Linked DNA regions of Homo sapiens. The protein of the gene in region 1 purifies or fractionates together with the protein of each later gene. This does not show direct contact. Each region holds a gene or a part of one and is shown on either strand. Other genes may lie near its edges.

Region 1 (4,356 bases):
TCCAAGCCAAACTGCATCCAGCTTTATTAAAGATACTTTCCATAAACATTCATGGTATTTCAGGCAGGATATGGGCAGACAATTGTTAAGAGTATGCAGCAAACTTCAAACTCCCTTGTTCAAAGGACTACCAAAAATCAGAAAGCCACTATAAAACTCAATGAAGTCTTCATCTGATGCTCTGAACAGGGAGAGTTTAGAGTGAGAGTTGACATTTCACATTTAGCATGTGGTTTAAACTTTTCACAAGCCAACCCTGACTTTCAGGAAGTGAAATGAAAATGGTAGAATTTATCTGAAGATCCACGATCTAGAAACAGAACCACTGCTCTTTTGACAGGTGCCATCTCAGTGGCATCACTGGAAAGTCCAGAGTGCCTGACATACTGGTAACCAATGATTGAGGGCCAGGTCCCAACAGATGTCTGGCTTAAAGGAGTTAAATCTATGCTGAAAGATGGAAAGGGAGAAGAGGACATAAAAATGAATTTATTTTCCATACCACAAGGCTTTTCTGCCAAGGTGGCCATGTGTGTCAAAGTCAGAGAATCCCTCCTCCTGGGAGCCAAGAGGAACTCTCTCAAAACTAGAAGGGAAAGGTGTTTTCCCCACATCGATCCAGCTTTGGAGACATTCTATTAGTGACATATGCCCCTTCCCCTAAAAACAACAATGAAGTGTTCTGGGTGCTAACAACATAGCTTAAAAAGAAAAGTAAAACAAAATTCTGCATTTTTATAAAACTTGATAAAAAATAGTTTTTCAAACTGTACAGTCACCAGAAGTACACAGTTATCAAAAATGCACACACTACACTTGGCATCTGCAGCACCTTCAGCTTTCTGTGCCTTCCCTGTTTTGGCATCTCTATTTTCTGCAGAGTTATTCCCCTCCTTGCCAGCATCAGCTTTTCCCTTTTTCCCTTTGGGTACCTTCTCTCCCTTCTTTGCAGGGGCATTTTTAGGCTTGGCCTCTGGATTTGGAGGAGCAGGTTTAGCAGACAACTTTGCGGGCCTTCTCTGTGGTTCGTCCTTCACCTTGGCTTATCTCCTTCAGCATCCCCTTCAGCCTTTCTCCTGGGCATGGTGGTGGCCACCCCAGCGGGATATAGGCACTGGATGCAGGATGCAGCATTGTGCGGGTTTTGGTCAGTCTGGGGGCTGTTCTTGCCTCTTCTTCACACTGCTCTGTCTTTCTTAACCTTTGATATATTCTTGGCCATCATTTCTTCAAGTATATTCTCACCCTTATTTTCCTTTTGGAATTCCTATTCATCCATCGTTGGAAGTTATGAATCTCACTTCAATATCTCACGATATCTCATCTAATTTTTTATACTTTCTATCCCTTCATTGCTTTTTAAAATTTTGGTGTTGCATCTGGAAGAATTTCTTGCTTTGCTCTGCCAGCTCATGGTTACATTTTCAGTGTTGTCCCTTCTGGAAATCATCCTTTTATAGCATTTCCTGAAATTTCAATCTTTACTCTTTTAATTCCCAAGCTCTCTGGTTTGTTCTTTTTTTATTTTTTAATGACTGTTTGTCCTCGTTCCACAAACTTCAGTTTAATTCAGTTTGATTCAACTCAATCCAATTCAATTAAGCGCATGTATGGGTACTTCCTGGCCTCTAGCACTGCGTAGATGCTTGAGATATAGCTGTGCACAGAATGGCAAAGAACCCTGACCATGTGGGGCTTGGATTCTAGTGAAAGGAGAGAAATGGCAAACAATAAATGTAATAGTAGGCAAATTTGTGCTATGTTAGAGGTCTTTACCTCTCCTAGAAAAATAAAAATGGTTACAGCAGGATAGATAGACCAGCAGTACCAGGAACACAGGCGGCGTCAGGCTGCAGTGGTGAATAGTGCAATAGGCATCATTGCCTAGGTGAGATGTTAGCAGGGAGTAGAAAGAGCTAGGGAAGTTAGTTAGCAGGTGTCTAGTGAGGGCACGTCCCAGGACCAGTGAGGACCGGTGTGCAGGAGTGAATTGAGGAATGAGTCCAGAGAGATAAAGGCAGACATGAAAGTCTTGTCCTTTGCAAGGACTCAGCCTTGCAATCTGAGTGAAATGGGAAATATTAGAATGTTTTGAACAGAGGAATGGCGTGAAGGGGCTTAGGTCTAAAAAGGATCTCTCTGGAGATCTTAGACTGTGGCGGGCAAAGGTGAAAGTCCTTCAGGAGACTTTGAGGTGGTCTAGGTGTGATTTGATGGGCCAGGAGATAGCAGCAGAGGTGGGGAGCAGTGAGTCAGATTCTGGTAGTATTTTAAGTGGAGGAAACAGGATTGTGAGTGTGATCAATAAAGTCAGGACTGAGAATGACATTTGCTACTTTGTCCTGTCAGCTAAGTCACCCTTATGTTGTGCGTTTGTTCTCAGATGGGGACTAAGAATTGACTGTTGCGTTTGGCAATGTGTGGGTCTTTGGGGACCTTGGCAGGAGCAGTGTTGGTGCTGTAGTGGGGGCAAAAGCCTGGATGGAGTAAGTTTAAAGGGAGGAATTACAAGAAAGGGATCAGAGACAGCAGATATGGACAGCGATTGCAGGAAGTTTTCTGCAAAGTGGAACTGGTGGCGGTGGTGGGTAAGCAAAGTAGTTATTTTGTTTAAGATGGTAGAAATGACAGCAAATATGCTGATGGGAATGACTAAGAAGAGCAAGCAAAATTGATGGAGCACAAGAGAGCAGGGAGAACGGCTAGAGGGATGTCCTTAAGTTGCAAGTGCAGATAGGACCTTTCACCCAGTCCTCCTCAAGCAGGGAGGTGCAGATATGGGTGCCATGTGCTGGGAGCCCATGTTATGGTGTGGTTTGTACAAGTTGTCTTCTAATTACTTCAATTTTCTCAGTGGGTAGGAAGTTGAAGGTGATGATGGAGGAGGTATGGGAGTTTCAAAGGAGGAAGCATTCTTCCATTTATTAAACAGCAAATCTCTGTTGAGTAGAATGCTGGGGGCTTTCCTCTGTGTTGAGGAATACAGTGATGAACAAGTCTAACAATCATTCTGGGATTGATGAATAAATACGCTAAGTTTAGATAGCAGTTGGTACTAATGAAGAAAATAACTCAGGAATATGATCGCAATGAGTAGGAGGGAGGATTCCAAACCGATTTTGGCTGGGATGGAATGTTCAGTAAAGTTCTCCCCAAGGAGGAGACCCAGGTGATGGGGAGCAGCTGGCCTTGGGAAGATGTGGGGCTGGTGTGAGGTGCAGGGAGAGTAAGTGCCAGGACCTTGGGTGGGAACAGCTTGGTGTCTTGGAAGGCAAAGAAGAAGACAGGTTGGTGGGGGCAGAATGAGCATGCAGGAGAGTGGTAAGAAGGCAGGGCAGCAGGTAGGCAGGAGCTGGGTGGCGTAGACCCTGTGGGCTTTGCCGAGGAGTTTCACTGTAATAACAATAGAAAATCATGCAAAAGGGTATCATAATCTTATTTATTTACTTCAGTTTAAAGTTCACTTACCTGCCTTATGGAGAATGATTATTAGAGAATAGAGTAGGTTCAAGGAGAACATTTAGAAGGTCACCCTAATTGTCCAGGTGAGAGAGTGATGGCCTGGATTGGGGTTGATGCCATGTGTGGAGTGCAAGAAGTGACTCGATTCAGGAAATATTTTGGTATTTTGGAAATAGAGTCCACAGGCCTTGCTCCTGGGTTAGATGTTAGGGGATCAAAAAAAGAAATGTCAATAATGACTCCTAGGTTTCTGGCCACCCAAAGAATCAGATTAACTGGAAGCCATTAATTGAGTAAAGGAATCCTGTGGGAGAAGAACTTCTCACTCAGGGTGGAATGTGGCTGAATTACAGATCATTTCTGTGTCTCTCTTGAGATCTTGAACACTTGCAATTTACTTAGAAATACTTATTTTACCTAAATATACAATGCATGTACATACAAATATATAGACATACAGAATATAGTTCCATATACAATATAGAAGGCATTTTTTGATTGCTCTATTTACCTTCTTCCTTTGATACAAATCCTTTGATTTGTTAGACCCTCTTGGGTCTTTTTCATTGGTATTTATCTTTCTCATATATGTGGCAATTAGTCAGAAATTCATACCCTAACCTGGCTGTCCTTTGTCACGCCGGTGGTTCTTGCAGGGTAGTGACTCTCACTGTTGTGGTATTGGTAAGGGAGGTAATTTCCAATTTCTTCCTCTTCCTAAGGGTCACCTCAGCCTCTTGTGTGAGAAGAGTTCTAACTTGTTGTTCAAGTGTGGCTGCTTGTTCATTAAACTCTCCCTTGTAAACTTCCTACACCATCTCTGGATTTGAGGGTGGGGGCTTGGAAGGTAAAATTTCATGTATGTTTACTCTGCTGCTCCTTCAAAATGTGTGT
Region 2 (5,280 bases), on another chromosome or scaffold:
TGGTCCAAAGCAATGGCTGCCCAATTAGGCAAAGGCTGTGAAAGTGAGCTCAGCTCAAGGCGAGCGACTGAAAGGAATGTTGTGTGTCTACATGCACGCATGGGCTGGAGGTGGTGGGGGCCACTTACGGTTCAACCCAGTGAAGCTGAACATGCCAATTTGATCAGTGATGTGGTTCCAGGTCCCAGGGGTTTTGAGGGCTTCTAGTCGTGCCCTGAGTTCAGATCTCATGGTCAGAATCCGGTCAGCCATTGTCTTCACATTACCTGTCCTGAAGCATGGACAGTGACGTAAATACCAATCCAGACAGGAAAGATGGTACCCGAAAACACACAGGTTTAAAAACTCTAATTTAAACGACAGCTGACAATGGGATCATAACCTGCCTATTATGGCATGTGGATGTCTGGATGGGTGGATTAACATACCAGAGAGAGAGACTTAGGGGGCAGAAGGAAAGGACTGCATTTACTAGTGAGTCTAGTGCTAGTCTTGGGTATACTGGCTAGAATACACTCACATTTCAACTCAGGCTTCACCGAGGTGCTGCTATAGATATTAATAGGGCAATATGTTTCATCAGGACTTACTAAATAAAGATTGCAGATTTAGCTACTATATAAAAATTACTGTTCTAAAATAAGATAAAGTGTATGTAAATTACAGATAAAAACCAAGAGCTCCCAAACTGTTAAACTGCCTAGACGTTCGATATTCTATTTTGCTGGGAATACCTTCTTGGGTTTTCCAACTTCATGGAGAGGAAGACTGGGTGGGGGGGGAAATTGGGGAAAACTACCATTCATCGAGTGCCCCCTCCTGTCTTCCAGGTGTTGTGTTATGCACGTGTGAGGTAGATATCAGCCCCTGTTTTACAAATATCTGAGAGTCAAAGAAGTTAAAGTAATTTTATCCTGCTTCTGCCAAAATGAAAGGAAGAGACCCAGTTAAATGTACTGGGACAATTACTGTTCTGCACTCCCCACCCCCCGGCCCACCAGACTGGGAGCCCCTTACCATTCCTCAAAGAGCTCAGGGTTAGAGAGGGTGCTGGCCACAATTCGTGCTCCCTGGGCGGGGGGATTGGACCAAGTAATCCGCACGATCTTCTCCATCTGGGAAAGGACTTGCAGGATGCTCTCAGGTTCTTTTCCAACCACAGTCAGATTCCCGACTCTCTCATCTAAAGAGAGGGACCAGAATCAGCTGTGGCTGCTGAAGCAGGGAGTGATGCGAGGAGGTGGGGCTGTAACTCCTCAGGAGAGCACTCACTGTAGAGCCCGAAGTTCTTGGAGAAGGACTGGGCACAGAAGAACTCGAAGCCTTCAGACACAAAATAGCGAATGGCCCAGGCATCTCTCTCCAGGTTTCCAGATGCGAAGCCCTGATAGGCTGAGTCAAAGAAGGGGAACAGAAACCGGTGCTGCGGGGAAGCAAAGTGAGTCAGGGCAGGAAATCCTTCTGGCACCAACCTCAGACACCGGCCTTCCTTCCCCAGCTGATGCCTGGAGGGAATTTCAAATGCTGTCCATTTCTCCTATTTCTTGACTATATGCACCCAAGCTCCACTTTACATCCATTTCTCTCTACAACCAACAAGTGTAACCTTTTCCGTAAACTTTACTTTTTAAAAGTAAATTGTCCTAGAGTGTCCCAATTCAGCTTAGAGAAACAGGGCTTACTTTTGATGCAAGGAGACAATGTCCTACATTGTGGATTTTCCTCTGTGAATTTCTGGCGTGAGAGCCTTAGTCAAGTGTAGGCTTGGTATCCCCAGGGCTCCTCATGGGCTATTCTGCTAGGTACTCAAGAGGAAGGGAACAGAGTAGCCTCCATTCCTGTCACTCATCTCCTCAAAGAGCTCTCCACAGGGAACCTGCTTCTACAGCTGTGCTCTCTGAGTGGACACCACTTCCCTCCCCGGAACTGTCCAAATCTTTGGTTGTACTTTGATTCCCATCTCTTAGGTTTATCTTGACTAGGTGGGACTGGGGGGAATCTGGACTCCTAACTCTGCAGCTCATCCCCCACATCCTGGCACTCCCCAAGTCTCATCAGTCCTGTCTCTTCAGAGCTCCCAAATCCTTTTGCATCTCACTGTCCCCACTGCTACCTACTTCATCCAGGTCACCATCAACTCCTACCTGGGCTATGGCAATGGTCTCCTAACTGCTCCCACGGCCTGTCTAGTCTTGCCTCTCTCTGACCCATTCCCTGCTATGACATCAGGGTGGCCTTAAGACCATGCACATCCAATCATGTCACTCCCCGACATCCAAGATTTCAGTGGCTCCGCACTGCCCTGAGAATAAAGTCCAAGCCTCAGCACAGACCCTGCCCCTATTCACTCTAGCCTCATCACTCACACTCCCCATGATGTCTGCCTGGGGCTTCTGACCATGCTCCGTCCTCTGCAGAGCACATCCCTTCCCTGTCAACCCCTGTCTGCTGATGCCTTCTTAGCTCCTCCCCATCCTACAGGACTCAACATAGAAACCACTGCTTCCAGGAAGGTTCCTGCCACCAACCCGCCAACTCCCACATATACACTGCCCAAAGTCTGGGCTATGTACCCCCCTATAACACTGTCAACACAGCTATCTCACAGCATCACAGCTGCCTTAGTACTCGTCCATCTCCCCAAACAGGCTGTCTGTCTTTGAGGGTAGGGACTGCATCTGCTCCATTCAATAGTGTATTCCCACAGTGTCCAATACACAGCAGTTCCTTAATAAGTATTCTACAAACTCGTTAAGGAAGAATATACACACTTTCAGCTAGGAATTCCCACCTAGAAAGTTACGCCAAAGAAATAATAAAAGGAAATTTTGTTACATAATTTTTCATCAGATCAAGCAATCTGAAGTAAACCTAAATATTCATCAGATGATTTACCCCATCCCTAATATGACATATCCATGAAAGAAATATAATATAGCTATGAAAAATGATGCTGCAAAATATTCAATGACATGTATATAAAGAAGTGAAAATGAAAAACAAATTGTGTTGCACAAAACAGTACAGACAAAATGATCTCATCTTTGTAAAACATATACATAAAACTAGACACACACACACACACACACACACACACACACACACACAGTCTGACATTCTATCTACCAAAACATTAACAGTATCTTTCTTTAGGTAATAAAATTTACAGTTAATACTTATTTTCTTCTTTGGACTTTTCTCCATTTTCCTAATTCCTCAGCAAACAGCAAACAGGTATTGCTTCTACATACATTAAATAAGAATATATACTATTTTTTAAGAGATGCTCTGAAGGGGCAGTTACCTTCATGACAGAAGCAATCTGCTTCCACTGCTCCGGAGTTGGGTCAATCCCAGTTGGGTTGTGTGCACAGGCGTGGAGGACAACAATGGAGAACTCAGGAGCATTCTGAGGAGAAGGAAGCTATGTCAGCTCTGACACTGATGGGAATATTGGGAGACAGAGTCAGCAGCAGATTGGTCAGTGATGGAGGGCAAAGGGCAACCATATTCTTGTCACTCTTTCATGTCTCTTTTGTGCCCTCTCTCTTACATGCTATGTCAGAAACCACCATCAGGTATGGGGAAGGTGTCTCAGACTCCTTCACTTAGCAACTGGTCCAAAGACTTTGCCTGAGATTCCTGACACCATGCAATTCTCTACTTTTTCCTCTAAATCACCCACCTCCAGATCATTCAGGAAGCCCTGGAGGTCCAATCCTCTCTTCTCTGCATCCCAGTAGCGATAGGACCGAATGTCTTTAAAACCAGCAGCGGAAAACACAGCATTGTGATTCTCTGCATGCAAAGAAGTAAAAAGTTAAGCACTTTACAAACACTAGGAGGCATGAGTGGAAAGGATGCAAGTCAGCTTCCAGGGCCCTCCCAGGCTCAATGTCCACTGGGCATCATCCAGGCTGGGGGTTAAGATGTAGAGGAATGATTGTAACCAAGAACAAGTTCAACCAGTCACATTAATGCCAGACTTATATTCTACTACAATGATACTTCCTGCATCTACATTCTATGCCTCCTCTGGGGAGTTTCAACATAGCCTTGGTAGATACAAGTCTACTAAGAGTCTTGAGAAAGAGTATTCTTAACTTGATTTTGAGCAGCAGGTTTCTCATGCACTGCCATAACCCACTGTTCAAGCCATTCCCAACAGTCAGTTGTTCTAGGGCTGGATTACATTTTCTGTGTAACCAGGGAGAGTCATGAGGATAATTCTCTCTGGTTTCTGTTTTTCCTCTCACTTCAGCTGAAAGACTCACCCCAGGTTGGTGAGGACACATAGACAGGTGTGTTCTTGTTGTTTGTTCCATTGTACCAACGCGCTAAGAAATCAGCTCCAATTCGAAGTGCACCTGTTCCCCCCAAAGATTGCACACCTCCTACCTGAAAGAGAAGAAACAGGGTCACAGGCTGATAATGGTGAGGTCAGATAATATTTACAAAAATAAGGTAATAATGAGCACTTACTCTATGCCTGCTCTGTGCTAAGGCTTTTAATTGTATTATCTCATCAAAACCTTACAACTACTACATGAAAAAGGTACTATGATTTGCCCATGTTTACAACTGAGGAAACTGAGGCTGAGAGAGGTGAAGAACCTTGCTCAAAGTTACCAGCTACTGAGCAGGAGTGCCAGTCTTCAACCCAGGAGGTCTGACACTAGAAGAAGCTTCCCTTCTGAACACAGAGGTAGAGGACACACCGAGGCCACATTAGTGTGTGTGTGTGTGTGTGTGTGCATGCACGCACATGCCTTGGAAGGCAAACCCATCTCTTCAGCACCCATCCTAAGATCAAACTTACCCTCTAGCATAAGCCTCTAAAACAGTGTTCCTAACTTGTCATTGACATCAATCTGTGCTACTCCTCATCTCTAGAATTCAGGCTTATTAATCCTTAGAAGTATGTTCTAACAAAACAGAGGTGATGCATGAGTACTACTTTCTTCTCCTTGGCTTCCTCTCATTTTTTTTTTTTTTCTTTTTGAGACAGTCTCATTCTGTCACCTAGGTTGGAGTGCAGTGGCATGGTCTCAGCTAACTGCAACTTCCGCCTCCCAGGTTCAAGTGATTCTCCTGCCTCAGCCTCCCGAGTAGCTGGGACTACAGGCGCCTGCCACCATGCCCGGCTAATTTTTTGTATATTTAGTAGAGACGGGGTTTCACCATTTTGGCCAGGTTGGTCTCGAACTCCTGACCTTGTGATCTGCCTGCCTTGGCCTCTCAAACTGCTGGGATTACAGGTGTGAGCCACTGCGCCTGGCT

What was found. The genes of interacting proteins can lie anywhere in the genome.
Region 2: the proteins of IL36G (region 1) and GOT1 purify together in Homo sapiens (affinity purification with mass spectrometry; one large-scale study listed by BioGRID and IntAct). This does not show direct contact.

What each region holds. Positions count from the first base shown.
Region 1 is NC_000002.12:112,980,351-112,984,706, forward strand, and holds part of IL36G (interleukin-36 gamma), read left to right. Parts: intron 1-616; exon of another isoform or gene 617-1,193; intron 1,194-4,356. UniProt on the Homo sapiens protein: Cytokine that binds to and signals through the IL1RL2/IL-36R receptor which in turn activates NF-kappa-B and MAPK signaling pathways in target cells.
Region 2 is NC_000010.11:99,402,452-99,407,731, forward strand, and holds part of GOT1 (aspartate aminotransferase, cytoplasmic), read right to left. Parts: intron 4,399-5,280; coding exon 4,275-4,398; intron 3,799-4,274; coding exon 3,686-3,798; intron 3,410-3,685; coding exon 3,305-3,409; intron 1,424-3,304; coding exon 1,273-1,423; intron 1,184-1,272; coding exon 1,018-1,183; intron 272-1,017; coding exon 129-271; intron 1-128. UniProt on the Homo sapiens protein: Biosynthesis of L-glutamate from L-aspartate or L-cysteine. Important regulator of levels of glutamate, the major excitatory neurotransmitter of the vertebrate central nervous system. Acts as a scavenger of glutamate in brain neuroprotection.